2 separate regions of the Homo sapiens genome follow, and region 1 is linked to region 2. The links come from fine-mapping of genetic effects on gene expression. A gene starts in region 2. The other region holds a variant in brackets. All regions are shown on one strand. Distances are from middle to middle.

Region 1 (15,074 bases), 25 kb before region 2:
TGGAGTGCAGTGGCGTGATCTCAGCTCACTGCAAGCTCCGCTTCTCGGGTTCACGCCATTCTCCTGCCTCAGCCTCCCGAGTAGCTGGGACTACAGGCGCCCGCCACCACACCCAGCTAATTTTTTGTATTTTTAGTAGAGACGGGGTTTCCCCGTGTAGCCAGGATGGTCTCGATCTCCTGACCTCGTGATCCGCCCGTCTCGGCCTCCGAAAGTGCTGGGATTACAGGCATAAGCCACAGTGCCCAGCCCACTATCTCTTTTATAAAGCACTTTAGAGTCTTTAGACTTTGAGGTAATAATTTTTTTTAAAAGTTAACTATATCATGGTTATCATTTTAAAACCTCCTCCTTATCCATTTGGAAAACGTGTGTCTATTTAAGTCTCCACCAGGTTGTAATATTTTTTAAAGGAAATTCTGATGATATAAATGCAAAAGAAAAAATAGGAAAGCATCTTTCAAATTAGCATGACTGCATGATATCAGATTCAGAAAGGGTAGGTGGAAAGATAAAGTGTGTGTTAAAAAAATGTGTGCAAATCAATGGCTGTGAAGTTGTAAGAAGATTGTAGGAAAAAAGCTAAAGGATACAAGAACCTCCAATGTTTTTTGATAGCCATGTTTTAAACAAAAACAAGAAAGGGATATGATGCTCACTGTTTGGAGCAGATGGCATATTGTTCCCTGAGGGTGGGGAAATCAGAACAGCTCCTTTTTTCTTCTGTCTATGACTTCCTTTTCAAAGACAATGATCTTCATATTGGAAACATCTAGCCATAAAGGAGGCAATGGAAACGCGACTGTGTGGAGTCGTTATTTTTTTTGTTTTTTTGTTTTTGTTTGCTTGTTTTGAGACAGAGTCTTGCCCTGTTGCCCAGGCTGGAGTGCAGTGGCACAAACATGATTCACTGCAGACTCATCCTCCCCCTCAAGCCATCCTCCCACCTCAGCCTTCCAAGTAGCTGGGACCACAGGCACACACTGCCATGCCCAGCTAATTTAAAAATTTTTTGTACAGACAAAGTCTCACCATGTTGCCCAGGCTGGTCTCGAACTCCTGAGCTCAAGCAATCTTCCTGCCTTGGCCTCCCAAAGTGCTGGGATTACAGGTGTGAGCCACTGCCCCCAGCTCTTCCAGTCATTTTAAGCAAATTTCATTCTCCACATGGAGAAAAATTACAGCCTGGTACTAAAGGTTCTTTATATGTGTAATTCGATACTTACTACTGGTGATCATTAATGAATCACAGAGAAGTTGAGAGATGATAGAAAATGACAAAGGGAAAAAATGTTATTTTGCTATGTAAAGGGAAGATAAAGATTTATTTTGGAAACCATAGATTGGTGAGCATGACTAAATTTTTCTTTTTTTTTTTTTTTTTTTTTTGAGATGGAGCCTTGCTCTTATTGCCCAGGCTGGACGGCAGTGGCACGATCTCCGCTCACTGCAACCTCTGCCTCCCAGGTTCAAGCGATTCTCCTGCCTCAGCCTCCCCAGTAGCTGGAATTACAAGCACCTGCCACCACGCTTGGCTAATTTTTGTATTTTTAGTAGAGACGGGGTTTCGCCATGTTGGCCATGCTGGTCTCGAACTCCTGACCTCAAGTGATTCACCTGCCTCGGCCTCCCAAAGTGCTGGGATTACAGGCATGAGCCATCGCGCCCAGCTAGCTTGACTTAAATTACTGTAAACAATTTGAAAGGAAAATGATAACAATTGGAGGCCATATGTCTGGCTAACCTCATTTCTTGCTTTGGAGGGAAGCAAGGAGAATGCTTGTAACAACAAGGGCCCTGTAGGTAAAAGCCATGGGTTCGAATCCTCCTTTTGTCATCTATCAACTGAATGACAGTGGTCATGTCCTATGAACACTCAGAGCTTCAGTTTTCTCATATGTATGTAACCTTGTTGAAATCACAGGCCCATGGCATTCAGCCCAGGCTGGTATTTCAGGAAGCACAACTCAACATGCCAGAAAAAAAATTTGTGTCCTTATTTTCCTTCTTCTTAAAGTACATAAAAAGGGCTCCAGGCTGCACATGGTGGCACATGCCTGTAATCCCAGCACTTTGGGAGAATCACTTGAGCTCAGGAGCTTGAGACCAGCCGGAACAAAGCAAGACCCCATATCTGCAAAAAAATGCAAAAAAAAATTAGCTGAGTTTGGTGGCACATGCCTGTAGTCCCAGCTACTTGGAAGGCTGAGGTGGGAGGATTGCTTGAGACCAGGAGCTCCAGGCTGCAGTGAGCTTTGATCGCACTACTGTACTCCAGCCTGGGTGACAGAGTGGCCCTAATTCAGAATCCTCATCTATGCTGCAATCCCATTTACTCTTCTCAGTTATTTATTTCCCACACCCTCTCCCAAACTCAAGTTTGACAAATGCTGAAAGAACTTTCTCACTTACACCTGGACTATATAGATTTCTTTCCCCTTCCTGTACTCCCTCCCCTACCTCCTCACATACACCTCTGTACTTTATTATTTTTGACTGACAACAGATTTCTCCAAGTCTTACCCCTCCTAAGCCTTTCAGGTTCTATCTTCTATTAATTCCCTGTCAACTCTCTAACTCTGATGTGTGAAGAGCCCAGGACTGGTCTAGCTGAGACAATTCTCCCTAGGAGACAGATGGGGCAGGAACAAAAGGAGAAGCAGGGAAGGCAATTAGGGGCTTATTTTGGCAGCCTGGAGCTGGGTGGAGAGTCTGAGATCAACTTCATTCTTTCAGTGAACATTCATTGTGTGCCAGGTCTGTGCTTGGTGCTGGAGAATGTGCAGGGAGCATGCCAGACAAAAGCCTGCCCTCCTGGAGCTCACTGTGCTAAGTGGTAGGAAAGAAGTCGAAATAAATGCTGATGGCGGGGGTGGGAGGTGAGCATTCCATAGGGAGTAGCAAAAGTCACTCTGAGGGGTTGACATTCGAGTTAAGACCTGAAGCACTAACAGGAACGCTCAAGGCAGAGGAACAGCAGCCCTAAACATGGCATATTTGAGAAGCAGAAAGAATGGATCATGGAGGGTGATAGGGTTTGGATGGTTGTCCCCTCCAAATCTCATGTTGAAATGTGAGCTTCAGTGTTAGAAGTGGGCCTAGTGAGAGGTGTTTGGGTCATGGGGGCAGATCCCTCATGAATGTCTCGGCAGTAATGAGTGAGTTCTTATTCTCTGAGTTCACACAAGATCTGGTTGTTTCAAAAAGCCTGGCACTGTCTCCTCTCTCTCTCTCTCTATCCATGTGATGTGCTGGCTCTCCTTTACATCCCGCCATGATTATAAGCTTCCTGAATCCCTCACCAGAAGCAGATGCTGGCACGATGCTTTGTGTACAGCCTGCAGAACTGTGAGCCAAATAAACCTCTTTTCCTGATGAACTACCCAGTCTCAGGCATTTATTTACAGCAATGTAAATGGACCAATACAGAGAGCAAAGGAGGAAATAGACCTACTAAGTCAGGTTATGTTGTAGGATGCAAGCCTTGGTGAGGATGAGTTTTATTCTAATAATAAGTGAAGCCTCAGAAGGGTTCTGAGCAAGGGCATGACAATATGTCATGTATGACAAGTATGATTTAAGTTTTTAAAAGAGTACTCTGATAGCTGCATAGAGAATGTGTGGCAGTCAGGCAATTGAAGCAGAAAGACTACTTATGGGGCCATGGCTTCCATCCAGACAAGAGCTGATGTGCCTTGAATGAGGCAATAGAAGTACCGATAAAGAGAAGTAGATGGATTTACGGCTGAATCGTCAAAAGCCCGGGTATAGGAGAGAAGAGAAGGACAGGAATCCGAATGATAAATGTTTGGCTTGAGCAGTTCATTACCATCCATAGAGATGGGGAAGACTGGAAAAGAGGGAAGTCAAAGGTTATGTTTTGGATATGCTACATTTGACAAGACTATTAGACGTCCAATTGGAAATGTCAGATGGGCATTTCGACCATATAAATGAGTCTGGAGCTCAAGGGAGAGGTCAGAACTGCACATATCAATCTGGGTGTCATCGCCAGAGAGATAGGACTCAAAGCCAGAGAGTAGAATGAGCTCACTTAGCTCTGGAGATAGGTGGAGAAGAAAAGGGGATCTAGGAGCAAGTTCTAGGGTATTCCCACATTTAGAGGCTTGAAAGAGAAGCAGAAGCCAGCAAAGGAGAGGCAGAGGGAGCAGCCAGGGATGCAGAAAGAAAACCAGGAGAGTGTGATGTGGTTTTCAGGGAAGAGGAGCAGTTGACTGGGTCAGGTGTTCTTGAAAGATCAAGTAAGATAAGTGCGGCCCAGTACAGTGGCTCACCTCTGTAATCCCAGCCCTTTGGGAGGCTGAGGCCGGTGGATCACTTGAGGTCAGGAGTTCAAGACCAGCCTGGGCAACATGGTGAAACCCTGTCTCTACTAAAAATAAAAAAATTAGCTGAGCACGGTGGCGCACCTGTAATCCCAGTTACTCGGGAGGCTGAGGCAGGAGAATCGCATAAACCTGGGAGGTGGAGGTTGCAGTGAGCCGATATCATGCCACTGCACTCCAGCCTGGGTGACAGAGCAGGATTCTGTCTCAAAAAAAAAAAAAAAAAAAAAAAAGACAAGTGAGGCGTCCATTGAATTTGGAACATGGGGGCTTTTGATGAGCTTGAGATGAGCCATGTTGGGTGAGAGAGCCCTTTCTTTCCACTCTGCATGTCTGATATTTGAGTCTGAGAAATAAACTAACAGATCACTTAACGAGAGAAAAGGCTAACACATATATTATGTGTATGCGTGCATTCCAGGAAGGTGAGTGTCCAATGACCCAATGGGATTTAGAAGCTTATATACCCTTCTTCACAGGGAGGGGGAAGGGTGGGATGCAGACAATTTAGAGGAGGAGTAAATGAGTTTTAGGGAAGATGAATGGGCCTGAAGAACAGATGGTAGTCTGAGACAAAGCCCATCTGGACTCCTGGTGTGTCATCAATTCTAGTCTTCTTTTCCTGGGATAGGCTTCAGTCTTCTCCCAGTCATTGAGATACCCTGGGGAAGCGATTGACAATGATTGAGTATCTTAGGAGAATCCTGTGTTTAGGTAGGGAGGGACCTTTGGGGAAAGTCCTTCTCTGCATTTGCTGCTCTCCATGTGCTCTCAGTTTGAAGTCTGAAGTGTCATATTTTGGGCTTTCATTTTCTGAGTCCCAGAAGCTACATTAGCCAGTTTTAAGTCTTCTGATGAGGGAATAGATTGTTGAGGAAGGGGAAGCAGTAATTTTAGATAATTTGTTAGAGAAGTGGTGCTTACAGGGGGTAGAAAAATGAGTTGGGAGATGGAGAGGGATTATGGAGTCAAGGGAGGAGCGTGTTTGTGTGCTTGTGAGAAGGATAACCCTAGTTATGTAAGAGAAGGAAGAGATGAGGGGGTCAGTAATGTTAAGAAAGTGAGACGGGCAGGAGCCAGAACATACTGGGGGTTACTGATTTTTGATGAGAGCAGGGACATTTTTTTCTGTTGTAACATATGGTAAGATGAAAAACACAGGCACTCTGAAGGACTGAATTCTGTCTCCCCAAAATTCATGTTGAAGCCACAGTCTCAAATGTGACTATATTAGAAGATAAGGTCTTTAGGGAGATAATTCTATTTAAATGAGGTCATAGAGCTACCCCTTAATTTGATAGGGCTGGTGTCTTTATAAGAAGAGGAAGAGACACTAGCACTCTCTCCCTCATGCATGCACCAAGAAAAGACAATGTGAGGACCCAGCCAGCAGGCAGCTGTCTGCAAGCCAGGAAGAGAGCCCTCACCAGGTACCAACGATGCCAACATTTTGAGTCTTCAAAATATGAGATGAAAAATTTCTGTTGTTTAAGCCACTCATTTTATGGTATTTTGTTATGGCAGCCCAAGCTGACTAAGACAGGCACAGAAACTTAGAGATTTTTAGATACAGTGGGAGCAGTATGAAAGTGTTGCTCCTCTGCAGGCTTCTATTTTTTTCAATAAAGTATGAAGTGAGGTCATCAGCAGCAGAGAGTGAGTGTGGAGGTGGGGATATGGGAGGTTGGAGGAGACGGGAGAATAAATAACAATTTTGAAAGAGGAAAATGAAATTTATTAGGAAAACATAGTAGGACTGCCAGGTATCCTTAAATGCCCATTTGAAGTTCATAGAACTTAGAGTGAAATCATTCAGGAGAGTTTCTCTAGCAGTATTTGGCTAGTTGGGGGTAGCCCCAAATGGCAAAGAGTTGGGTACATCCATGCCTCCAAATTTGCCAGTCAAGGACAACAGAAAAAGAAACAAGAGAGATAAGAATGTTTTCAAGGGTGTGAGTTGGGGAAGGAGGGAAATGAAGATAGGAGGCGTGTATGAAGATAGGAGGCGTGTATTGGGCATGGGGGCTTCTCAATGAGATTAAAGAATCACTGCAGAGAGAATACTAGAATAAGTGAGCTGGATAAATAGAATGTATTGACATTAACAGTAATATATTCATTATATGAAACTAGTGATAAAAAATACCCACTTCACAGGATTATTCCAAGGAACAAATGGAAATACTTGGTAAACGACAATGTGAGTTATCAGTCTTACAGTAACTAAAGTAATGTAGAAGATAAAACAGATCTTGATTTCTTTAGGCCATTCTACTACAACTATCATGAACAAAATCATAATATGTAAATGATAACATGCTAACTAGATTTATGACCATTGAAGAAGAATATCAAAATTGTTTATTCTGCTTATTTTTAGCTCTGGCCCAATTCTAGGGCCATTCCCTTGTCAAAATGGTCAGTATTTCTGTGTAAGACAATCCTTTATGTGAGAAATTTCAGAGTGGGACACTGTGTAAGTAAGCCATTTGGTGTTTTCCAGGTATCAGCAATGATTAGACAGAAGCGATGTCAAAGAACTATAATTTTAATTTCAGGAATTTTAAGCCAATA[G/A]TTGGAGGAACTCTGAAGAAATGTAGACAGTCTGTTTTTCTTATATCTTGAATTGCTCAAGCAGAATGAGAATGTGATAAGACTCGTAAATTCCAAATTACATTCGACTGTATCTAATAAAGAGATTTAAGAAGTTGAGAAAATATATGTTATTACTGGGAAAGAAATAGAAAGTTAAGCAAAAAAAAAAAAGAAGAGGAGAAGAAAAGATAATAAGTAGTTGAACTAAATGGAAGCGTTCAATGCCCAAGGAAAAAGCCCACAGCTGTAATAAAAATAATCATCCTGAATATTATATTCCTTGAATTAAAAAATGCATTCAATCTTTGATAGAGTTGAAAAAGAGGTGTTTTAGATAACAAAATGCTAGCACTGTGTAAACACTGATCTCAAATTCTCCTTAGTTCTCTTATACTAATGTGCACTTATATGGATTTACAGGTCCTTAGAAGTACTTACTGATTCATACATACTTTTATCTTTTGTTAATTGATGCATAATAATGTACATAGTTTTGGAGTACACATGACAATTTAATACATTTGTATAATTTGTAAATATCAAATCAGTATACTTGGGATATCCATTAAGTATTTGTCTTTTCTTTATGCTAAAAACACTCACCTTTTTCTCTTGTAGCTATTTTGAATTGTACAAAAGATGGTTGTAAACTATAATTACCCTGCTGATCTATCTAACATTAGGTCTTATTTCTTCTATCATATTGTATATTACCATATATACTTTTAAGTACTTACAGATATTTACCCATTCCTGTAAAATTCTTGCAGTCAAAGTTTCTACAGACCTGAATATTAGGAAAATGCAGGTTTAGTCCTAAAAAGGATACCGTGATGCAGCCATTGATGTAGCAGTGACTGGCTCCCCTAGGCTCAAACAATGCATTGACCTTTAGAGGGCAGCCAAGTGGAGCTCACGCAGGTTAATTCCAGTGCATGGCCTTGTTAGATCACATCATATCCCCTGCCTAGTGCCAGACACTTAATGCAGGAATAGTATGGTTTCAGGAGCCCCTCTCTGTCCAAAATTTGGTACCTGCTTCAGAGTCAGAATCCCAACTTTAGTGCCTTTGATTGGATTAATAATTTCTCTGAGCTCCAGGTCTGGGGATTGGGCTTGGCTTGGCAGTTGGGTTAGTCAATGGGATAGGATGTGGCTCTAGAGTTGCAGTGGCTGGAGGTTGGAGGGCCTGGGATGAGGGATAGGCTAGCAGGGAGAGCAGGCATTGTCCTAAGAAACAGAAGCCCAAAAATCTGTGATGTGAGGATGGTCACAGCAATTGCTAACCATGGTCAAGAGGGATCCCCAAAGGTGAAAGCTGAGAATGGCAAATCTCTTCAGCTGGAGTGGGGGTAGAAGTTGAGACAGGGGCAAGCATGGGCAGGCTAGGGAGGCAAGAGGGGCCAGGGTGCAGCGAGAGGGGCTTAAATGATTGCAGCCATTTGAACAGGCTGGCCATGGCTCTCTTTGGTTTTGCTTAAAGGCAACTGAGTTAGGAGTGAGGGCAGAAAAAAAAAAACATTCCTTAAAAGCATTTTCTGAAATGCAAATATATGTTCATCATGAAGTGTGAAACATTAAAAACTCATTAGAACTCATTGCCATGCATGATCCTGCTCACAAAGCCTAGTTTTTCAGATGAATAGGAAATAGGGCCAGGAATTAAAGAACAAGAACAGATATCCTCCAGGTGGAAGGTACTTTAGAGAGAAACCTGACATGTCTTGGAAAAGAGGTCTTGCAGGCAAATAGAGACAAAGCACCTGGGCTCTGCCAAGTTAGAATGAAGACAGCAAAGCAAAAGAAAATCTGCAACAAGACAAAGTAGCTCCAACTTAACTAGATGCAGGTTATTCCAAATTTAAGTGAAATAACAGTGGGGCATTTTATCAGCTGGGAAATTGGGAATAAGCAGATAGAAGATTAATACACTTTCATGCAATCAAGAGTTCAAGTCTGGGCCAGGTGCAGTGGCTCATGCCTGTAATCCCAGCACTTTGGGAGGCCCAGGTGGGAAGATCACCTGAGGTCAGGAGTTCGAGACCAGCCTGGCCAACATGGTGAAACCCCTTCTCTACTAAAAATACAAAATTAGCCGGGTGTGGTGGTGGGCACCTATAATCTCAGCTACTAGGGAGGGTGAGGCAGAAGAATTGCTTGAACCTGGGAGGCAGAGGTTGCAGTGAGCCGAGATCGCACTGCACTCCAGCCTGGGCGACAAGAGTGAAATTCTATCACACACACAGACACACACACACACACACACACAAAGAGTTCAAGTCTGTTGGGTAGGGTTATTCCTTCTGAGTTGTCTGAAATGACATGTGATTGATTGCATTTCTCAGAACCGACTACCACATTCAAGTAATTTTATTCCATCTTTTTTGAGGATCACTGTTTTGTGTGTTTCCTTGTTGAAATTCATCTGTAATTGTATCGCTTCATTTTGTGATTGATAGGTCCCTTGGGATGCTCTGCTAACCCTTCCTAATTACAGTTTACCTAAGCACAGTAAATTTGGTTAGCCAATTCTCTCACACTTTCATTAAATATTAATGAGAACACTTGAGTAACATCATTTTAAATATGGTAAAATCTCAATTAAATAGAATAAACAAGGATTGAGTTTTTCTAGTTAATTAAATCTTATAATTAGCTGAAGGTTAACCAGGGGATCTTTTGGTTTGAAACCCTCCTGGTGATTTTTTTCTAGTGTCTTATTTTGTTTTTCCATCTGATCCACTCCAGGTTTTAATTTTCCCTGGATGAGTTACCATCTTGCAATACCTCATGCTTAGTTGTCTCTTATTCATTCATTCATTTGTTCAAATTTATTAGGAGGCTACTAATAGATGAGGAAGTCATACCAGAGACAGACATGACAATGGTAAAACAGCACATAAAGGGCAAATTCTAGAAGTTGTTCTTTCAACAAATTCTAGTTTATAGTTTTTGCTATTATTGTCTTACAAAGCGTGGGTTATAGAAAAAAAAAATCTTGGTTGATGGGGAGATTCTTGTGTGCTTCCTGTTAACTGAATGAAGTAGTTTTCCTCCTTTGCGTTTCAGAATTTTGAAAATCATCATTATTTTTTGACAAGGCCTTTGCCTCATTTATAAAACTGTCTCAGTACGATGAGACATATCACTTGCTATTTATACTTTATTGTGACATACTCTTCTTGCTATTTCATTTCTTATTTAAGGTGCATGCAAATGTTTGGGCATGATTTCTGAAAGATTTTTTGCACTAATCTTTGTTCTGATGACACTCAGCTGAACTCCACAAATAAACCCCAAACAGTCTTTAGAAGATACACAAACACTCTCCAGTTTTGAATGTTAAACCAGCATATTAGGATTCTGTTCACTGCTCACATGTGTCTGACAACTAGTTTTTGTAGTGTTAGGTTTTCATGGTATATCATTTCCCTGGGGCTTCCACATTAATTAGGCAGCTTTTCCATATTGACTCCCAGACTTGGACCGGTTTTCATTGGTTCACTTCTTTCTTGCTCTGTTGGCCAGAAATCACTCTATGGTTTTTGTTTATTGTTTGTTTGTTTGTGATGGAGTTTCGCTCTTGTTGTCCAGGCTGGAGTGCAATGGCGCGATCTTGGCTCACCACAACCTCTGCCTCCTGAGTTCAAGCAATTCTCCCGCCTCAGCCTCCCGAGTAGCTGGGATTACAGGCATGCACCACCATGCCGGCTAATTTTGTACTTTTAGTAGAGACGGGGTTTCTCCATGTTGGTCAGGCTGGTCTCAAACTCTCGATCTCAGAAGACCCGCCTACCTTGGCCTCCCAAAGTGCACTGGTACAACCACAGCTTACTGCAGCCTCATACTCCTAGGTTCACTTTTTTTTTTTGGTATAGGCAGGGTCTTGCTATGTTGCCCAAGCTGGTCTTGAACTCCTAGGCTCAAGTGATCTGCCTGCCTTCGCCTCCCAAATTGCTGAGATCCTGCCTTGGCCTCCCAAATTGCTGAGATTACAGGCATGACCCACCACACCTGGCTGCTCTACCCTATTAAACTTTGTTTTGCCTTGTTTTGTTCTTTTAAAGAAGATTCCACAACACCCTCTACAGGAGTTCCTAGGTATTGAACCTGATGCTTTCCTGAAAATGAATATAAAACATGAATATGTAAAAGTTGAGCTATAGACTTGCAGATTGTAAGAGAATCTTCACTCTTAGATGAGTAAACTTATTTTAAAACTGTAGTTATGGTTCAAATATTTAAGTATTTGTAAATTATTTAATGTTACAGCACCTAATAGCCATCTCAAACACTCAAATTAGCATGGAGTCAACACTGAATACAGATAAGGTATTTTCCCATTAAAATTCTTATTTCAGCTGGATGCTGTGGCTCACGCCTGTAATCCCAACACTTTGGGAGGCCAAGGCAGGCAGATCACCTGAGGTTGGGAGTTTGAGACCAGCCTGACCAATATGGAGAAACCCCATCTCTACTAAAAATACAAAAAAAAAAAAAAGAAAGAAAGAAAATAAAATTAGCCAGGCATGGTGGCACATGCCTGTAATCCCAGCTACTTGGGAGGCTGAGGCAGGAGAATCTCTTGAACCCGAGAGGCAGAGGTTGTGGTGAGCCAACATTGTGCCATCACCCTCCAGCCTGTGTAACAAGAGCGAAACTCCGTCTCAAAAAAAATAAATAAATAAAAATAAAAAATAAAATTCTTCTCTCAAAATTCACTTATTTGAGTTTTAGTGAAGATGTATTTATTTATTCATTTATTTATTTTATCTTTTTTTTTTGAGACAATCTCGCTCTGTCACCCAGGCTGGAGTGCAGTGGCACCATCGCGGCTCACTGCAACCTCCACCTCCCGGGTTCAAGCGATTCTCCTCTCTCAGTCTCCCAAGTAGCTGAGATTACAGATGCCCCCATGCCCAGCTAATTTTTGCCTTTCTAGTAGAGACGGGGTTTCACATGTTGGCCAGGCTGATCCTGAACTCCTGACCTCAAGTGATCCACCCTCCTCGGCCTCCCAAACTGCTGAGATTACAGGTGTGAGCCACCGTGCCTGGCCTGAGGAAATATTTAATTAGCAGAGAAATTTACTTCTTTTTTTGGTTGAGAAAAAGAACTTGCTGATGGTGATTGCATAGCTAATATGGACACGTAAGCATGTATATAACTGACATTTAATGACATTTCCAGAACTCACATTCTTGGATTGGGTGTCTTCTCAGAAGCGACAGGGTTTCTTCGGTCGTCATCCAGTTTGCTTGCACAAACCCTATTCAAGGGTTGCATTTGTCGGGCTGGATCCAGAGCGGAGCCTGACTGGGTGCTTTGGCCATGATGGATGGGGGTTACTCTCTTCTCTGTAGCAGAACTCCTGGAAGACTGAACCATGCCACTGAATCAGGAAAATAATTATGTTAGATGTCCCCAGTAACATAAGTCTCCTCTTCCATTATTTCCTTTATTATGATTTTTATCTGAAAATTAAAAACAGAACACTTATTGGTGACATGATGAGAGCTCACTTTACTTTTGTAGCTTTCAAATGGACTCACTGCTTTTCCCACAAACCCTTCTGCCTATGAGACAGTCCAACATTTCTTGTGTGTGAAGTCTTGCTCTAGACTATTATGAAAAAGACGGTCAGGGCAGAAGAACTTGATCCAGGAGACTTTTAAGAACTTGTTACTCAAAGTGAGACCCTTAGTCCAGTGGGACTGGCATTGTCTGGGAGCTCGTAGATATGACACCAAACCAGGTTCATTCTGCCTGCACACAGTAAGCCAGTCATGGTGACAATGGGTTTTGCAAAAGAGAAAAGATTTACTCACAGGGCAACCCAGCCAGGAGATGGGAGAACAGCTCTCAAATCTACCTCCTCAAGGATAATGCTTAGGGATATTTATGGAGTAAAGAATTAGGATGGTCTAAGGTGGGGAAAGGTGATTGAGGGTGGGGAGAAGTGAGGTAACTGGTGATCTGAGCAAGTGCAGTCTGGGCTCACGGCTCTTCTTAGGACACATGGTCAGAAAATAGCAGTGTTAACATGATCTGAGGGTGGAGTTTTGGCCCTCTGATGGCAAGTGTCACTTTTCCGACATCCATGCAGGTGCATTCAGAGGGTTGGTGGTCTCAGCTGGTTTGAACTGGACAGGGGCCGCCCCAAGTTCCTGAAAGACAACTTAAGCAATTGTTACTATGGTGACATATATGTCAGAGTGTTATTTATAGGGAAGCTAGTGAAGGCTAAGTTATAGCATTTAGCAGCCTGACTTTAAGCTATGTGGGTTTAAAAAATCAACAAGCAGCAAAAATCAACAAGGTGCAAGCAACTTAAAAGATTAGCCCTCAGTAGCCGGACGTGGTGGTTCACACCTGTAATGCCAACACTTTGAGAGGCCAAGGCAGGCAGATCACCTGAGGTCAGGAGTTCAAGGCAGCCTGGCCAACATGGAGAAACACCATATCTACTAAAAATAAAAATTAGCCAGGTGTGGTGGCACATGCCTGTAATCCCAGCTACTTGGGAGGCTGATGGGGGAGAATCACTTGAACACGGGAGGCGGAGGTTTTGGTGAGCTGAGATTGCACCGTTGCACTCCAGCCTGGGCAACAAGAACAAAATTCCATCTCAAAAAAAAAAAAAAAAAAAAGATTAGCCCTCGGTTTCAGAAATGTAGAATATTAGGGCCTACCCTGGATCTACTCAACCAGAATCTGCATTTTAACACATTTCTCAGGTGATTCATGGGCACACTGCAGTTGAAGAAGTGCTGCCTTAAGAGGCCTGCCAAGACAGTAACAACCGCCGCTGTATAGACTATGAATGGGAGAAAAAAGTAACTCTTCCTCAACCCTCATACGTTTGTAGTTGGGACAGACTCACAAGAAAAGACAGATTAACAAGAGAAAAACAAGCAAGTATATTAATGCATGCAGTGCACATCCCGTGGGAGAAAAGTAACTCAAAGCAGTGGCTTTAAGAGTCTGGCTTATGTCGTATATTCGACAAAGAACAATACAGCTCAGAGAAGTGACAAGACAAAGGGGAAGCTGTCCCAGGATCCTAGAAGTGGGAAAATGTGGGAAGGCAAATTTATGGGAAATGAAGGGAGTGAAGTCCACTGGCAGAATCTCCTGGCTTTGTTGCTGAGCTGATAAAAGGTTGTAAAGGAGAATTTACATCCTGGCTTTAGGTGCAAAATAGGGGGAGGGTAGAAGACCTTTTGTCTTTGCAATTCTCTGCCCTGCTTTTAGGCAAACAGAAGGAAGGCAGAGAGCTTTTCTGTCTGCTTCTTAATTGCCTTTAGCTCAAAAAACATTTATGTCAAAGAGGCATATTTTGAGGTGACACATTCTGGTTTCTTTGAACAAATACTGCTGAATACTGATTATTAAGCAGGGTCTCCACTCCAATGACTGTGCTAAGTGTTTTTATGCATTGTCTCATACAGATTTTGCATCAAATTCATCAAAGAGAGGATTATTCTCATTTTGCACCTGAGGAAGCTGAAATCATAGAAGGGCTAAATAACTTTCTTCTTTTTTTTTTTTTTTTTTGAAATGGAGTCTTGCTCTCTTGCCCAGGCTGGAGTGCAATGATGGCATGATCGTGGCTCACTGCAACCTCCACCTCCTGGATTCAAGTAATTCTCCTGCCTCAGTCTCCTGAGTAGGGGGCACTACAGGCACCCACTACCACGCCCGGCTAAGTTTTGTACTTTTAGTAGAGACAGGGTTTTGCCATGTTGGCCAGGCTGGTCTTGAACTCCTGACCTTGTGAAATGCCCACCTCGGCCTCCCAAAGTGCTGGGATTACAGGAATGAGCCACCACATCCAGCCAATAACTTTCTTAAGGTTAAGCATCTAGTATGTATCAGAGCAGGAATTTGAGTGATTGTCCACTTGCCTTTAAAGTTTATCCTCTTGATCACTGTAATTTGTTTATTTGATTCAAATATGTTGTCAGCAACCTCATTTGAGGTGTTAAAAGATAATTTTCATATAAGGTAAAATCATGTATTTCATACAGCTACGAAAATGATCACTTTTTAAATATTTATTTTATTTTTTATTTTTTAGACAGGGTCTCACTGTTGCCCAGGATTTCAGTGGTGTGATCGTGGCTCACTGCA
Region 2 (15,074 bases):
TGCTCAGACTTCTAACTTGGTTAGTTTTAGGTGGGTCCCTCTGCATTCATATGCTGGACTTCTACCTGGAAAGGAGTTCTCCTGCAGCAGGATGTGATATGATCCCCAGTATATTAGTCAATTTTCATGCTGCTAATAAAGATATACCCGAGACTGGGTAATTCATAAAGAAAAAGACATTTAATGGACTCACAGTTCCACGTGGCTGGGGAGGTGAAAGGCATGTCTTACTTGGTGGTAGACAAGAGAGAGAATGAGAATCAAGCAAATGGGGTTTCCCCTTATAAAACCATCAGACTTATTCACTACCATGAGAACAGTATGGGGGAAACTGCCCCCCGTGATTCAATTATCTCCGACAGGGTCCTTCCCACAACACGTGGGAATTGTGAAAGCTATAATTCAAGATGAGATATGGGTGGGGACACAGCCAAACCACATCACCCAGTAATCCTTCCTGGGCTTACAAATCAGCCCACGCTTGTCTTGCAGCTATCTCTTGTGCCACGATGTTGTTCCTGGTTTAGAGTCTTTGCAATTCCTACTTTCACCTGGATCAATTTCTCTCAATCCCCTATGACTTGTCTGAGAGATGTTCCCAAATCAGCATTTTTTAAAAAAGGACTCAACCCAACGTCTTCACTTGTGGTGTGCCCCAACCTCTTAGATGGGATCTGCTCACAGCTAGTGTCCTCTCTTATCCCAGAATTGAGAAGGTCTCTTTCTGGAGCAAGTTTGAATGACATTAGATGAAAAAAGGAAGAAAACTCTGAAGACTCTTGAAATGAAAAGGAGGGGACAGGGAAGGTACAGAAGCAAAGATAACTAAAAGGGCTTCTCTGTCTGTACCTTTCATTACTGGGTGACTTCTTACCAGTGTGAGATGCTTCCTACCTCTATGGCAATAACAATGACTGATTTGAGGAAATAAAGCAATAATGACTTTGAGAGAGTAAGAACACATCTATTTACTGACTTCTGCTTGTCAGGTGTTTTTATATACATCCCATTAAATTCCTAAAATTCCTTTATTGGGTAAGGATTTTTTTTTTTTTTTTCTTAAAGGCAATCCCAAAGCTCAAGAGCTAAAGTCAGAGAGTGGAGCCCAGATTCAGAGACTGGCCTTGCTGACTCTGAAGACCCTGTTTGGTCCCCAAGACTTCATTCCGTCACCTTCACTTCTATCCCAGATCCTCTCATTTGTTTCCACGTATCTTCTGTGATTTTAGTTTGCGCAACTAAACCTATTCTGAGTTTTTATTTAAAAAGATACCCTCTCTGATTTAAGAAGAGGCATAGGAGACACAATCCTATTGGTGCCTACTGGTCACAGTTTCACAATTCAATACTGCAACGCCATCGTAATTCAAAGCATTGCTGGCTTGGTAATTCACTTCATTAACAGTCCTGCCTGCATAAAATACAAGGCAAATGGGAAATAAACAAATCCTTGGACAGTATAATACATTCAGAAAGCACAGAAGGTGATGCGTGGAGAATGAATTAGAGGGAATTGGGAAGGAAGTGGCGGGGGAGATAAATTCTATCAGGATTAAGAGGGACTTTTGTGAGCCCATGTGTACTCTGCAGGCAGTTTTTAGAAAGGATTTCTGAGAAATATTGGAGAATTACTTATGAATCTGTCTTGTTTATTTCTTTACCTTTATGCCTTCCTATCCCTCACTTCCCACATCCAATCTCCTAGGAAGTCCTGTCAGTCTTGCCTCTAGAATGGATCTCAAATCTGTCCACTTCTCTGCCTGCCGATGGACACAGGTGTGCTGAAGTCTCCAGTTACACCTGTGTCAGATCTCCTCTCTGGGGACACAGGAGGGTGGCTCATTTCTGACTCCCACGTTGCAATCAGGTGGGGCATGTGACCAGCTCTGGCTAATGATGCATTGTAATTCTGGTTCAAACATTTGGATACAGGGCAAGACCTTCCAGCATGTTCTTCTCCTGCCACATCAATTATAGAAGCAGCTTATTGAAATGAAGGTGCCACAAGACTGAAGCAATTTGGATCCCTGTATTAGTCAGAGTTCTCTAGAAAAACAGAAACAATAGAGAGATAGCAAGAGATTTATTACGAGGGATTAGCTCCCATAATTAGGGGAGGCTGAGAAGTCCCATGACCTGCCTTCTCCAAGCTGGAGCCCCAGGAAAGCCAGTGGCGTAGCTCAGTCTAAGCCCAAAGGCTGAGGAGACTTTGATGGAAACCATGGGGCCAACAGTGTAAGTCCCAGTCTGAATATGAAGGTCCTAGAACCAGGAGCACCGATGTCCAAGGGCAGGAGAAAACGACGTCCCAGCTCAAGAAGAGAGAGTGAACTCACCCTTCCTCCACTTTTTTGTTCTATCCAAGTGCTCAGCAGATTGGATGCTGCCCACCCACACTGGTGAGGGCAGCCTTTACTCAGTCTGTTGATTCAAATACTCATCTGTTCCAGAAATACCTTCACATCACACCCAGAAATCATGTTTTACCAGTTATCTGGGCACCCCTTTGCCCAATCAAGTTGACACAGAAAATGAACCATCACAAGCCCTAAACCACATGGAGCACAGCTGCCCTAGACGGGCCTCCAGACATACAGTGGGCATTTCATCGGCAAGAAACAAACCTTTGTTTTGTAAAGCAACTGAGAGCTTGACGTTGTTATCACATCATAGTCTATTCTATCCTGACAAGCAAAAGGAGTTGCCATCAGCTCTCTCCTAGAGTCCTGCAGAAACCTCCTAACTTTTTCACTTCCTCTCTTGCCCCATTTCTCCTCATTTCTCTGCAATCACCCCATGGCTCTTCAACCTTGAATCCTATTATCTTTTTATTTCCTCAGATAATCCAGGCTGCTCCCCATTTTGGAACCATTGCACATTTATTTTTTTGAGACAGAGTCTTACTCTGTCACCCAGGCTGGAGTGCAGTGGCCCGATCATGGTCACTGAGGCCTTGGACTCCTGGGCTCAAGTGATTTACCTGCCTCAGCTCCCCAAAGTGCTGGGACTAGAGGTGTGAGCCACTGGGCCTGGCCTGCACACACTTTTTCCTCTGCCTTGAACGCACTACCCACTTTGTTTGGATCATCCTTGGGTGTCTCCATCTAAATGACACTCACTTGGAGGCCTCCTCTGACCCCTCAGTGTGAGTAGAGACCTACTCTTCTGAGCCACCTACTCTGGTTCAACCATAACCAATCACGGTTCATAATTCTATATTCATTTGTTTGGTTATTTGTTGATTGATACCTTTCTCCTTATTCAGACTGCAAGCTCCATTAGGGAATAAGACCATGTCTATTTTCTCTTCCTCTCTGTCCTAAATAACCTGTGTGTGGGCCCAACCCATATTAGGCTATCAACGAATACCTTCAGGATGATGAAATAAATGCATTAACAGCAAGTTAGAGTTGCATATATATTTTTTAAGTCTAAGGAAAGAGATAGTTGATTTTTTTTTGAGCACTTAATATATGTGACGCATGTTACAAGTGGTTTACATTGTTTCCTTAGCATATATATATCATGGCAATAACACTATGAGGTAAGCACAATTATCCTTGATTTAGAAATATGGAAGTCTATGCCTGGAGTGGGTTAAATAACATGCCTATGTCCCTGAGGCTCATTAGGCAGGCTAACTTTGTAACCCATGTCCTTAACCTGACTTCAGATTTTTTTTCTTTTGTTCCACCTCCAATTTTCAAAGTTTATAAAACAAATAGCACCAGGCCAGTATATTGCAGCTATCAGAATAATCAAAGGCCAGATTTGTGTTCATTATGGAGAGAGTTAATGATCTCCTATGTCTGCATATTTTCTACCGAAGAAAACATCCTTTAAAAATAAACGCGACTGGGAGCGGTGGCTCACGCCTGTAATCCCAGCACTTTGGGAGGCCCAGGCAGGCGGATCACGAGGTCAGGAGATCGAGACCATCCTGGCTAACATGCTGAAACCCCGTCTCTACTAAAAAAATACAAAAAATTAGCCGGGCATGGTGGCAGGCGCCTGTAGTCCCACCACTCGGGAGGCTGAGGCAGGAGAATGGCGTGAACCCGGGAGGCGGAGCTTGCAGTGAGTCGAGATGCACCACTGCACTCCAGCCTGGGCGACAGAGCAACACTCCATCTAAAAAATAAATAAATAAATAAATAAAAATAAAATAAACACACAGTGATTAAAACTATTAAATAACTTGTTCATTGTAAATACTAACCTCAGAATATGAAAACCTGCCAGTATAAAGTCCTCAAAGGCCAGGCACGATGGCTCACGCCTGTAATCCCAGCACTTTGGGAGGCTGATGCGGATGGATCATCTAAGGTCGAGAGTTCCAGACCAGCCGGACCAACATGGAGAAACCCCGTCTCTACTAAAAATACAAAATTAGCTGGGCGTGATGGCAGGCGCCTATAATCCTAGCTACTCGGGAGGCTGAGGCAGGAGAATCGCTTGAACCAGGGAGGTGGAGGTTGCAGTGAGCTGAGATTGTGCCATTGCACGCCAGCCTGGGCAACAAGAGTGAAACTCCATCTCAAAAAAAAAAAAAAGGTCTTCAAAATAGAGTTCTCTTATGTTTGACTTTACAGCGTAAGTTTTTTGTTTTTTTTTTCATTTAGACCCATCAGAGGTGAAAATATTAATTTCCTTTTCCATGGAGAAATCCAATAATGGAGTAAAGATGAGACTTCATTTGGACACACTTTATCAATTAAATCTGATTTTTGTTAACAATATCTTATAAGCTCTCATTTTAAATCAATCTTTTTAAAAATCTCTTTCATGAAACAGCACATATCTGAATGAGAAGTCGCTCCAACTGACGGAGAAATGCAAAAATCTGCAATATGGCATTGAGTCTTTCTCTAACAAAACGAAAGGGTAAGTTCTACTCTTCACATTTAATTTCCTTTTACAACAAGGGTTTTATTTTCAGAATGTCTGACAGTGTCTCTGAAGTCATTTGGAATATGAGACTGTTCACTCTCAGGCTTACCATTGGGCTCTGAAGCTCCTGTTAATGAGCATGATGGACCTGGGGCCAAACAATGTGTACCAGGGTCAGACCCTGGCAGTGGGACTCAACTTATTTGTCCCTGGATCCGCATTTGTTAAAAATACCATGTAGGGGCCAGGTGCGGTGGCTCATGGCTGTAATCCCAGTGCTTGGGGAGGCAGAGGCTAGAGGATTGCTTGAGGCCAGGAGTTTCAGACCAGGCTTAGCAACATAGCAAAACCCTCATCTCTACAAAAAATAATTAAAATTGGGTGGCATGTGCCTGTAATCCCAGCTACTCAAGAGGCGGAGCCAGGAGGATCGTTTGAACCCAGGAATTCAAGGTTGCAGTGAGCTATGATGGCACCACTTGCACTCCAGCCCAGGGGACAGAGCAAGACCCTGACTCTAAAACTAATTTTTAAAATTAGCTGAATGTGGTGGCTCAGGTCTGTAGTTTCAGCTACTCAGGAGGTTGAGGAAGGAGAATTGCTTGAGCCCAGGAGTTCAAGGCTGCAGTGAGCTATGACTGCACCACTTCGTCCAGCCTGGGTGACAGACCGAAATCCTGTCTCTAAAATCAACCAAAAAACTCCTCAAAACACCATGTAGTTATACTGGCTAAACTTTTATAGGCCCCCAATCCTTTTGAGAACATGATATGTATTCTGAATGCTATCCTAGAAAAATACACACTTGTACAAAATTGTGCTTACAATTTCAGCCAGGTGAACGATTTACCCCCCAGTCTCAGCTGTGACACTCCCTCAGCTTCCCCTGCGCTGCTTACAATCCTATATTTTAGAGGGTTTGCTACATCATCTCCTTCAAAAAAAGGAAATCCAAGTGCTCCATGCCTCATCTACATGGAAGAGGCACTGGTGGCCTGAGACTCTGATTGTTCCTAGAAGGTGCCCAGTCCAATGGTGCTGGACAAAGGATGTGTGTGTGTTGGGCAGGGACACGAGGTTATGCCTGTAACCTCCCTGAAAGGAAATAACCCGAGTTTCATCTTGCTTTATGCTTGCCTGACAACATTTGAAGATGGTTCAGGATAATGTAAACGCCCAGTGGTTTCACCTTGCCCACTGCCTAGACAGAACCGATTTATCAAGACAGGTGAATTGCAATGGAGAAAGAGTAATTCACGCAGAGCTGGCTGTGTGGGAGACCGGAGTTTTATTACTCAAATCAGTCTCCCTGAGCGTTGGATCGGGGATCAGAGTTTTTAGAGATAATTTGGAGGGTAGGCGCTTGGGCAGTGGGGAGTGCTGATGGTCAGGCTGGAGCGAATCAGGGAGTTGAAATGAGTTTTTCTTGCCATCTTCTGTTCCTGGGTGGGATGGCAGAACTGGCTGAGCCAGATTATGAGTCTGGGGGGTGTCAGCTGATCCATCCAGTCTAGGGTCTGAAAAATATCTCAAGTACTGATCTTAGGTTTTACAATAGTGATGGTATCCCCAGGAGCAACATGGGGAGGTTCAGACTCTTGGAGCCAGAGTCTGCATGACCCCTAAACTGTAATTTCTAATCTTGTAGCTAATTTGTTAGTCCTGCAAAGGCAGACTGGTCCCCTGGCAGAAGGGGGTCCTTTCAGGAAAGCGCTATTATCAATTTTGTTTCAGACTCAAACCACGAACTGAATTCCTTCTCAAAGTTAGCTCGGCCTACACCCAGGAATAAACAAGGACAGCTTAAAGATTAGAAGCAAGATGTAGTCAGTTAGGTCTGATTTCTTTCATGTCATAATTTCCTCAGTTATAATTTTCAAAGATGGTTTCAGTAAGAGGTATTGCTGATTTCCACATGCCAATCCTATACAAGGAAGACCCAGTGAGCGGTCTTCCTGCCTTCATGTTTTTCACTTTCTCTTCCTAATAATAATTCTCTTTCTCTCTCTCTCACACACACACTGCTTCTTTTAATGTTAGAAATAGTGTTTATACAGCTGCCTCTAATCCATTCCTTCCCTTCCCTGGGGGTGTTGGAGTTTGATCTGGGGATAAAGAAACCAAGGTAGGTAAACCGGTTTAACTGTTTCTCCACTGAGCCTCTGGGTAAATAGACTAACGATATTTGCTTAGAGGAAGAGACACATCCATTGAGTGTCCCTAGCAGGCTGATCTCTGGCTGAGGTCCTGCTTAAAGTTAATGGAATCCAGGATCCAGGAGGCAGGACTGCCTGGAGAATGGCTCAAAGGCTGTGGAACTCCCTGGGTCTAAAAGAGAAACCGTTTAACAATTTAAAGTTTCCTGCTGTGTGAGGAAGCCCACTGACCTCACCTAGAAACCTCACCTACGATCCTGGGCCATGTGCAGTGTGGGAAGACAGGACTGGGGTGTCCACCCTTGATGTCCCAAGCCTGTCTCTGCTTTGTCTGAGTCTGTTGACATAACCAGAAATTATGTTTTACCAGCTATCTGGGCATGCCTGAGCCCAGTCAGGTCGACACAGAAAATGAACCATTGAAAGCCTTAAACCACACACAGCACAGCTGTCCTAGACGGCCCTCCAGATATACAGTGGGCATTTCATGGGCAAGAAACAAACCTTTGTTTTGTAAAGCAATTGAGAGCTTGGCGTTGTTATCATATCATAGTCTATTCTATCCTGACAAGTAAAAGGAGTTGCAATCTCTCTCCTAGAGTTCAGCAGAAATCTCTTAACTTTTTCACTTCACCTCTAGCCCCATTTCCCCTCATTTCTCTGCAGATCTTTGAAATTATTAGGAAAGCTTGATACTGGCTAAGATCTCTGATTTGGGTTAATCGATGTGACAGCAGTCCAGTCCTGTATGTTAGCTCCGTTTCTCACAGAAGGATAGCCCTATGAAAATCCTAGTTTTCTGGGCCCGGCGCGGTGGCTCACACCTGTAATCCTAGCACTTTGGGAGGCTGAGGCGGGCAGATCACCCGAGGTGGGGAGTTCGAGACCAGCCAGACCAACATGGAGAACCCCCCCCCCCCCGCCCCACCGCCCCGACTAAAAACACAAAATGAGCTGGGTGTGGTGGCGCATGCCTGTAATCCCAGCTACTCGGGAGACTGAGGCTGGAGAATCTCTTGAACCCGGGAGGCAGAGGTTGTGGTGAGCCAAGATCACGCCACTGCACTCCAGCCCGGGTGACGAGAGCGAAACTCCGTCTCAAAAAAAAAAAAAAATTATTGTTTTCTTTTCCTTAAATTCCAACTAGCGGGCCTTAAGCTTGCAAGGGGAATCCACGGTGCTGTGCGTCTTCCACTGGGCCCACTCAATCCACTTTCACCCTCATAGCTTTTCACCCTCCAGTTTCATCTCTGCCTGACTTTTCCCAGGGAGGCTGACGTACGTGGAACTCACCAATAGGTTCTGGGCTCTTTTGCCATCCGGCTTTTCTTTGGAGCAAGGAGGAGCATGAAAAAGAGATCAGAAAGAGGGAGGTGAAAGACCATCCCCAGGGCCTAGAAGCTGGCGGAGGCCTGAATAACTCCTCCCTTCTCAGGCCCAGTCCCAAGGCGCAAGGCGGCTTACGTCATCAGCGTGCGTCAGCAAGATAGCAGAAGCGGGGAGAGAGCTGTTCTGAAGACCCAGAGAGAGGCCTACCGGGTATCACGTAGCAGTAGATACACAGACTGAAACACTTCCTGTTTACGGGAGACTGTAAAACCCCTGCCCGTCCTCATTTGGGGCTGATGCCATTTTAGGCCTCGGCCTGAAATGGCCTGAAGGTCTGCCTTCAGGCATTCATTAAAACTGCCTGTTGCTCCACACTGCCTTGTGTTGTTTGTTGGCGTTCTCTCAGGGTTCGAACCAATACAAGAGCCTTGCAGGAGGAAGGAGAAGAAACTCTGTGTTTGATGTCGTTGCAGGTTAACTACATGCTTTTCTTTCTTTTTTCTTGGAGACAGTCTCACCGTCACCCAGGCTGGAGTGCAGTGGTGCGATGTCGACTCACTGCAACCTCCACCTCCCGGGTTCAAGTGATTCTCCTGCCTCAGTCTCCCCAGTAGCTGGGACTACAGGCGCGTGCCACCACGCCCGGCTAATTTTTGTGTTATTAGTAGAGGCAGGGTTTCACCATATTGGCCAGGCTCCTGACCTTGTGATCGAGCTCCTGACCTTGTGATCGAGCTCCTGACCTTGTGATCGAACTCCTGACCTTGTGATCTGCCCGACTCAGCCTCCCAAAGTGCTGGGATTACAGGTGCGAGCCACCGCGCCCGGCCTGTGTGTATGTGTGTGTGTGTGTGTGTGTGTGTGACAGTCTCACTCCGTCGCCGAGACTGGAGTGCAGTGGCACGAACACAGCTCACTGCAGCCTTGACCTGCTGTATTCAAGCGATCCTCCTGCCTCAGCTTCCTGAATAGCCAGGAAGACAGGTGCGTGCCACCATGGCTGGCTAATTTCTATTTTTTGTAGAGATGGGGTCTTTCTTTGTTGCCCAGGTTGGTCTCAAAACCCTGGGTGCAAGTGATCCTCCTGCCTTGGCCTCCCAAAGTGTTGTGTTTACAGGCACTTGAACCCAGAAAATCTGAGACAGGTCTCAGTTAATTTAGAAAGTTTATTTTGCCAAGGTTGAGAATGCGCCCGTGACACAGCCTCAGGAAGTCCTGACAACATTTCCCCTAAGTAGCTGGGGCACAGCCTGGTTTTATACATTTTAGGGAGGTATGAGACCTCTGTCAGGCTTCTGAGCCCAAGCCTGCACTTATACATCCAGATGGCCTGAGGCAACTGAAGAACCACAAAAAGAAGTGAAAATAGCCAGTTCCTACCTTTACTGATGACATTACCTTGTGACATTCCTTCTCCTGGACAATATGTCTCCAGCTCTCCCCACCAAGCACCTTGTGACCCCTGCCCCCACCTGCAAGAGAATAACCCCCTTTAACTGTCATTTTCCACTACCTACCTAAATCCTATAAAACTGCCCCCACCCCTATCTCCCTTTGCTGACTCCTTTTTCCGACTCACTCCGCCTGCACCCAGGCGATTAAAAAGCTTTATTGCTCACACAAAGCCTGTTTGGTGGTCTCTTCACACAGACACCGTGACAACATCAATCATTATATGTAAGAAGTAATTGGTTTAGTCTGGAAAGGGGGTGACAACTTGAAGCAAAGGCAGGAAGACTCGAAGTGTGGGGGGAACTTCCAGGTCACAAATAGGTGAGACACAAATGGTTGCATTCTTTTGAGTTTCTGATGAGCTTTTCGAAGGAAGGCCATCAGATACGCATCTATCTTAGTGAGGGGAGGGATAACTTGGAATAGAATGGGAGGCAGGTTTGCCCTGAGCAGTTTCCAGCTGGAGTTTCCCTTAGTGATTTTGGAGGCCCAAGATATTTTCCTTTCACATTTCACCCTTTTTCTTTTTTAAAATCTTTTGGAGAAATGATTTTACAAAAAAACAAACAAACAAACAAAAAACAAAACAGACTCTCTGGTTTCAGATTTCATCTGATCTTTCATTGCTAGGATGGTTTACTCCTAGATGGGTAGGTCCCGAAAGTTCATTTTAGCAGGTTGTGAAGTCTCCTGTCCTGTGAAAAGAAAATTAGGGGGAGGAAGGGGGAAAAAGCTACAAACAAAAGAACAATCCTGGAAAAATTGATATAGGCCAATTACTCGGAAGTCCATACATTAGTAAGTAGGTATGAAAGTAGCTTATGTATGTAAATTGGTTGCTGTTATTTTCTTCTTAAGTTTAAATTGTCTGGCTTCAGTTCTCATGGTTTGAAGAAAGCACAGCTTAGATTTTAGTGACTCCAAATTAGGAAAACTGGAAAAAAAAATGAAAACATCATTTTGAAGACTTGCAGCCAAGAAAAATTAGAATTTGGTCCAAACTGTAGAAAATAATAAAAATGGAAAAGAAAACATTAGGCAAGACTAGAATTTAACACGTGTACTATCGTTTTGAAACACAATTTTTTTCTCTCTCCAGTTTCCCATGTTATTAAAGACAAATCATGGTAGCACTGGTTTGCTTATTATACTTGGCCTAATTATTTGTATATAGTGCAGCATGAATAATTATTTTTTACATAGTTTTTTAAATTGGCTTTGATGGAACTCTGTTCCATAGAAGCAATCTCAGATAAGACTTTTTAAAAGCCAAGCCCAGTCATGGATTTGTGCCATCAAATACTTACGAGTTTCGTGAATTTCCTCTCGAGGTTCCAAGTTTATCCTGGGGGTACTGTGCCTGTCAGAAAGTGACATTCTGTTTTTACCACAGGTCAGAAACCCTGTACAGGGACTGTGTACACAAAATTTGAGGCCAGTTTTTCCAAGGGCTTTATTGGCTCCGTAAGTCAAGTTTGATTCTTTAAAGGAAAGCACATCATTCCAGTCAAAGCCTTGGTAAAATAACCAGTTTCTCCAATTGTGTCCTGTCACAAATGAAAACAGATTCCTATTGCACTTACGCAAATAACTGTATTGCCATAAGTTAAGAATATACACAAATAGTTTCCAAATTCCAGAGAAATCAGTTAGAAACAAATATGCTCCAAATTTTGTTCATGGGAGTATACTAAATTGTTACAAGCTGTCAGTAGCTCAAAAGAAATGTTTTAAGAGTCTGAAAAACAAAACAAAGGATCAGTAAACATTTTAAGCAAAAAGTCAAAAGGATTGGTTTAGTCCATGCAGTTAATTCCTGTGTTTTGCTTGATACTCATGAATATTTTAGCTCTCCATGAGTTCTGAAAGTTTTTCCTGCATTCTGATATCACAATCTACAAAGTTATTAGAAACGTGCATTTAAAAGCACCTGTTGAAGTTTTATAGCTGATTATAAAACCACCCTCTAAAGAGGAACAAAACAAGACAACAATTGTCCATGGATGAAAAAGAAGTTTTAAGACAGCCATAGTCAAAAAACACAATTGACAAGAAAATTTATCTCTGTGGCACACAATGATTATAACAATTATGATTATTACTGATAAGGTACACTAAGGTATATCAGAATTACAGGAGTTTCCCATAATTTTGGAACACATATCAATAACATATTTATACAAATACAGCCCTAAGAAAACTAAATACCACTTTATATTTGACAATGCTTCCTGTATAATTTTTATACCAAATAAGCCAAATTATGTCATTTTTTGGACTTTAGGGAACCTAATGTCTTAAAGGATTAATTAGATTAGAAAAAGACATAATTGATAATTTGATTTTAGAAAGTTTGTCATATATCAAAGGTTTAAAACACTTGATATTACAAAATAGGATTACAGGTCATTGTGAAGTCATTTATTTAACCAAAGTGATAATTCAAGTATTAAAAAAAAAAAGTGAAAACCTTCATTCTTTGTGAGAAGAGACTTAATTTTCTAAACAAGAAGCCCTAATAAAAACAGCATGAAGCCAATTACATTTGTTCAAAATTTTGTAAACAGTCTATAAAATTTAATCTTCATTATAAAATATAACTTCCACAAGCCTTTTATAACCTTTATAACCTTTATTAAGGAGTTGGTTAATGCTTCTAGAAAATCTTGTTAATCTGACACAGGGATCCGTATACTAGTTTTGCATCAGTGTGCCTTTGACACTAATGGTTAATTTATAGAGAAACTAAACTTATTTTAACTTTCAAAATCGGCCCTTACGATCTTATGGGCCCACCTCTTTCACAGTAGTCCCTGGGCCTTGAGGTGTTGAATAGCTTTAATTTCTTGCCCTGTATCTCAGGCATGCAGTTTATTTTGATTGGCATCTTGTACGGGGCCTGAAGATAAGGCTTTAATTGCTATCAGTGTTTAAGATTTAGCAGGACTTGATGTCCTTTTCAAACCCAGGAGTTAAAGCCCTGTAACTCAATGTTAACAAGGACTTTAAAAGCATATACAGGGGCCAGGTGCGGTGGCTCACGCCTGTAATCCCAGCACTTTGGGAGGCTGAGGCCGGCAGATCACCTGAGGTCAGGAGTTTAAAACCAGCCTGGCCAACATGGTGAAACCCTGTCTCCACTAAAAATACAAAAATTAGCCAGAAATGGTGGCGGAGACCTGTAGTCCCAGCTACTCTGGAGGCCGAGGCAGGAGAACTGCTTGAACCTGGGAGGAGGAAGTTGCAGTGAGCCAAAATTGTACCAATGCATTCCAGCCTGGGTGATAAGAGCAAGAAGATACATGGATGTAATAAACTTAATTAAAAAAAAAATTATCACTGAAACTTCTTTTATTGGAAAATTCCCAAATATGAAATATCTATTATTTAATTTAATACAACTTTATATTCTAAATTATGACCAGTTTGTCTACAAGTATTTATCCCATTACATTTACGTAATTATTTATTTTAATAGTTTACCTAGATTATTTATGAAAACTGTGATAGTCATGATTTAAAGTTATGAAACCACCATTGCAAAATTATAACTGAGACCGTGAAAAAATTTTGACTTGACTCCATCTTGCTGTTAACCTTCAAGCTGTCCTTGTTCATTCCTGAACACAGGCCAAGCTAATTTTGGGAAAAACTTAGTTTATAGTTTAGCTTTGAAACAAAGACGATAACAGTTCTTTCCCAAAACAAACCTCTTTATTGTCTGTGGACTAGACTGCCTAAAGCCACAGGATTAGAAGTTATGATAATCTTACTAAATTTGAGATACAGCTATTTTCATTAAACGCATATCAATGTCTCACTTATTAAAAATTACACAAGCAAAGATCATTCTGTTTGGGGCTGGGTTTACAGTTTTGTAACCCATGCCAAATTTTGACACCTCATAGTATTTGGCAAGGATAAGTATGAAACTGCTTGATTAATAAATGCAAACAAAAATGTGTGCTGGCAATTCTTAAGACACTTATAATATTACTTTACCAATAATTTTAAAGCCAGCTTATTTATTAAAGATTTTACTTAAGTTATATAACCTTTAAAAGCATGTGACTAGTCTTTTTTGGTATTTGATTTAAGCACTTTTTTTTAAAGCCAATTAATTAGAGCTCTTTTGTGTATTTTTACTAGTGAAACATTGTGTACACAACACCTAAAAACATATAAAGACGTATTAGGCATGCCGATGGAGGTACATTTTATAGATTTATAACCCCACCCCCTTTTTCCTATTATAGACTTTCAGATTCTTGATAATGTGTTTTACAACCCTAGGTAGTTGTCAGCTAAATAGCCTTAAGTTTGCACATTAAAGGAAACAACTCAGATGAAAATCAAATAGCAAAATTTACATCATAAGGTATAGAGAGAATAAGTCTGGTGGTACTAGAGGGAGACACTTTCATTTTTATTTGAGTCAAATTAAACTACACTCTTCCTTAAAAACCCGAGTAAACTCTGTTTCAATAACTATGTTAGTCAAACAATCAGGTGACGACAGAACTCGTTCAACTGAGAAGATAAAGAAAAAAAAAAACTTTTGCTCAAAAAAAGACAAAATCTTAGGAGAGAAAAACAAAAAAAACCCCTCAAAACATGAAGGCCTTTCAAATACAAACACGTACACATACACACAAACACACACACACACGCACAAACACACATATACACATATGCATACACACAAACGTGTACACATACAAACACATACACACAAACACACAAACGTACACATACAAACACACAAACGTACACATACATTCACACAAACATGTACACATACACACAAACATGAACACATACACACAAACATGAACACATACACACACACATCTTGGCTGTTAGCCTTTTCATTAAGCTGACTTTTAATCATGGAGCTCCTTACACAAATTTGTTTTTTAAATCTTATTACCATATTTCAGCTAGGACAAAATGCTGCTATTTCAGAAGTACAGCCATTGCTCTTTCAGTTTGGTCTGGCTGGCAAAAAGGTGGCCTTGTTATGTAAATAAAGCCCCTTTTGTAGTTAAAATTAAAAATCTTTTTTTTCCTTTTGATGGCCATTTTCCTCCCACTTCAGAGACCCTGTTCCCCATAATTTAGGGTTCCCCTTCAGATTTGACCAAGACAGAAAGAAAAAACAAAACCATTAAGCAAAACTAACAATGATCACACAAATTATATGATTTCTGAGTGCTGTAAGTGTAAGCAGACATTAACACCAGCTGG

Alleles and levels. Alleles are on the strand shown, and positions count from the first base shown. SD is a standard deviation of normalised expression in the study named.
In carriers of allele A in region 1, the expression in testis of the gene that starts at base 8,479 in region 2 tends to be lower than with G alone (moderate effect, 0.54 SD a copy in GTEx).

What was found. PIP is the estimated chance that this variant, and not a neighbour inherited with it, causes the effect.
Region 1: its variant is fine-mapped to the expression of ST8SIA6-AS1 in testis (GTEx, PIP 0.96).

The regions. Positions count from the first base shown.
Region 1 is chr10:17,405,309-17,420,382 of GRCh38, reverse strand. All of the region lies in intron 2 of ST8SIA6 (ST8 alpha-N-acetyl-neuraminide alpha-2,8-sialyltransferase 6), which reads left to right. It overlaps ST8SIA6-AS1 (ST8SIA6 antisense RNA 1), which reads right to left. Exons shown (of 3, transcript NR_034129.1): 3 at 12,097-12,415. Among named protein-coding and RNA genes, the nearest start is that of ST8SIA6-AS1, 26 kb to the right of the region's middle. The variant G/A (reference allele first, on the strand shown) is at 6,921.
Region 2 is chr10:17,380,341-17,395,414 of GRCh38, reverse strand. It overlaps ST8SIA6-AS1 (ST8SIA6 antisense RNA 1), which reads right to left and starts at 8,479. Exons shown (of 3, transcript NR_034129.1): 1 at 8,340-8,479. ST8SIA6 (ST8 alpha-N-acetyl-neuraminide alpha-2,8-sialyltransferase 6) reads left to right here. Exons shown (of 8, transcript NM_001004470.3): 3 at 4,795-4,884.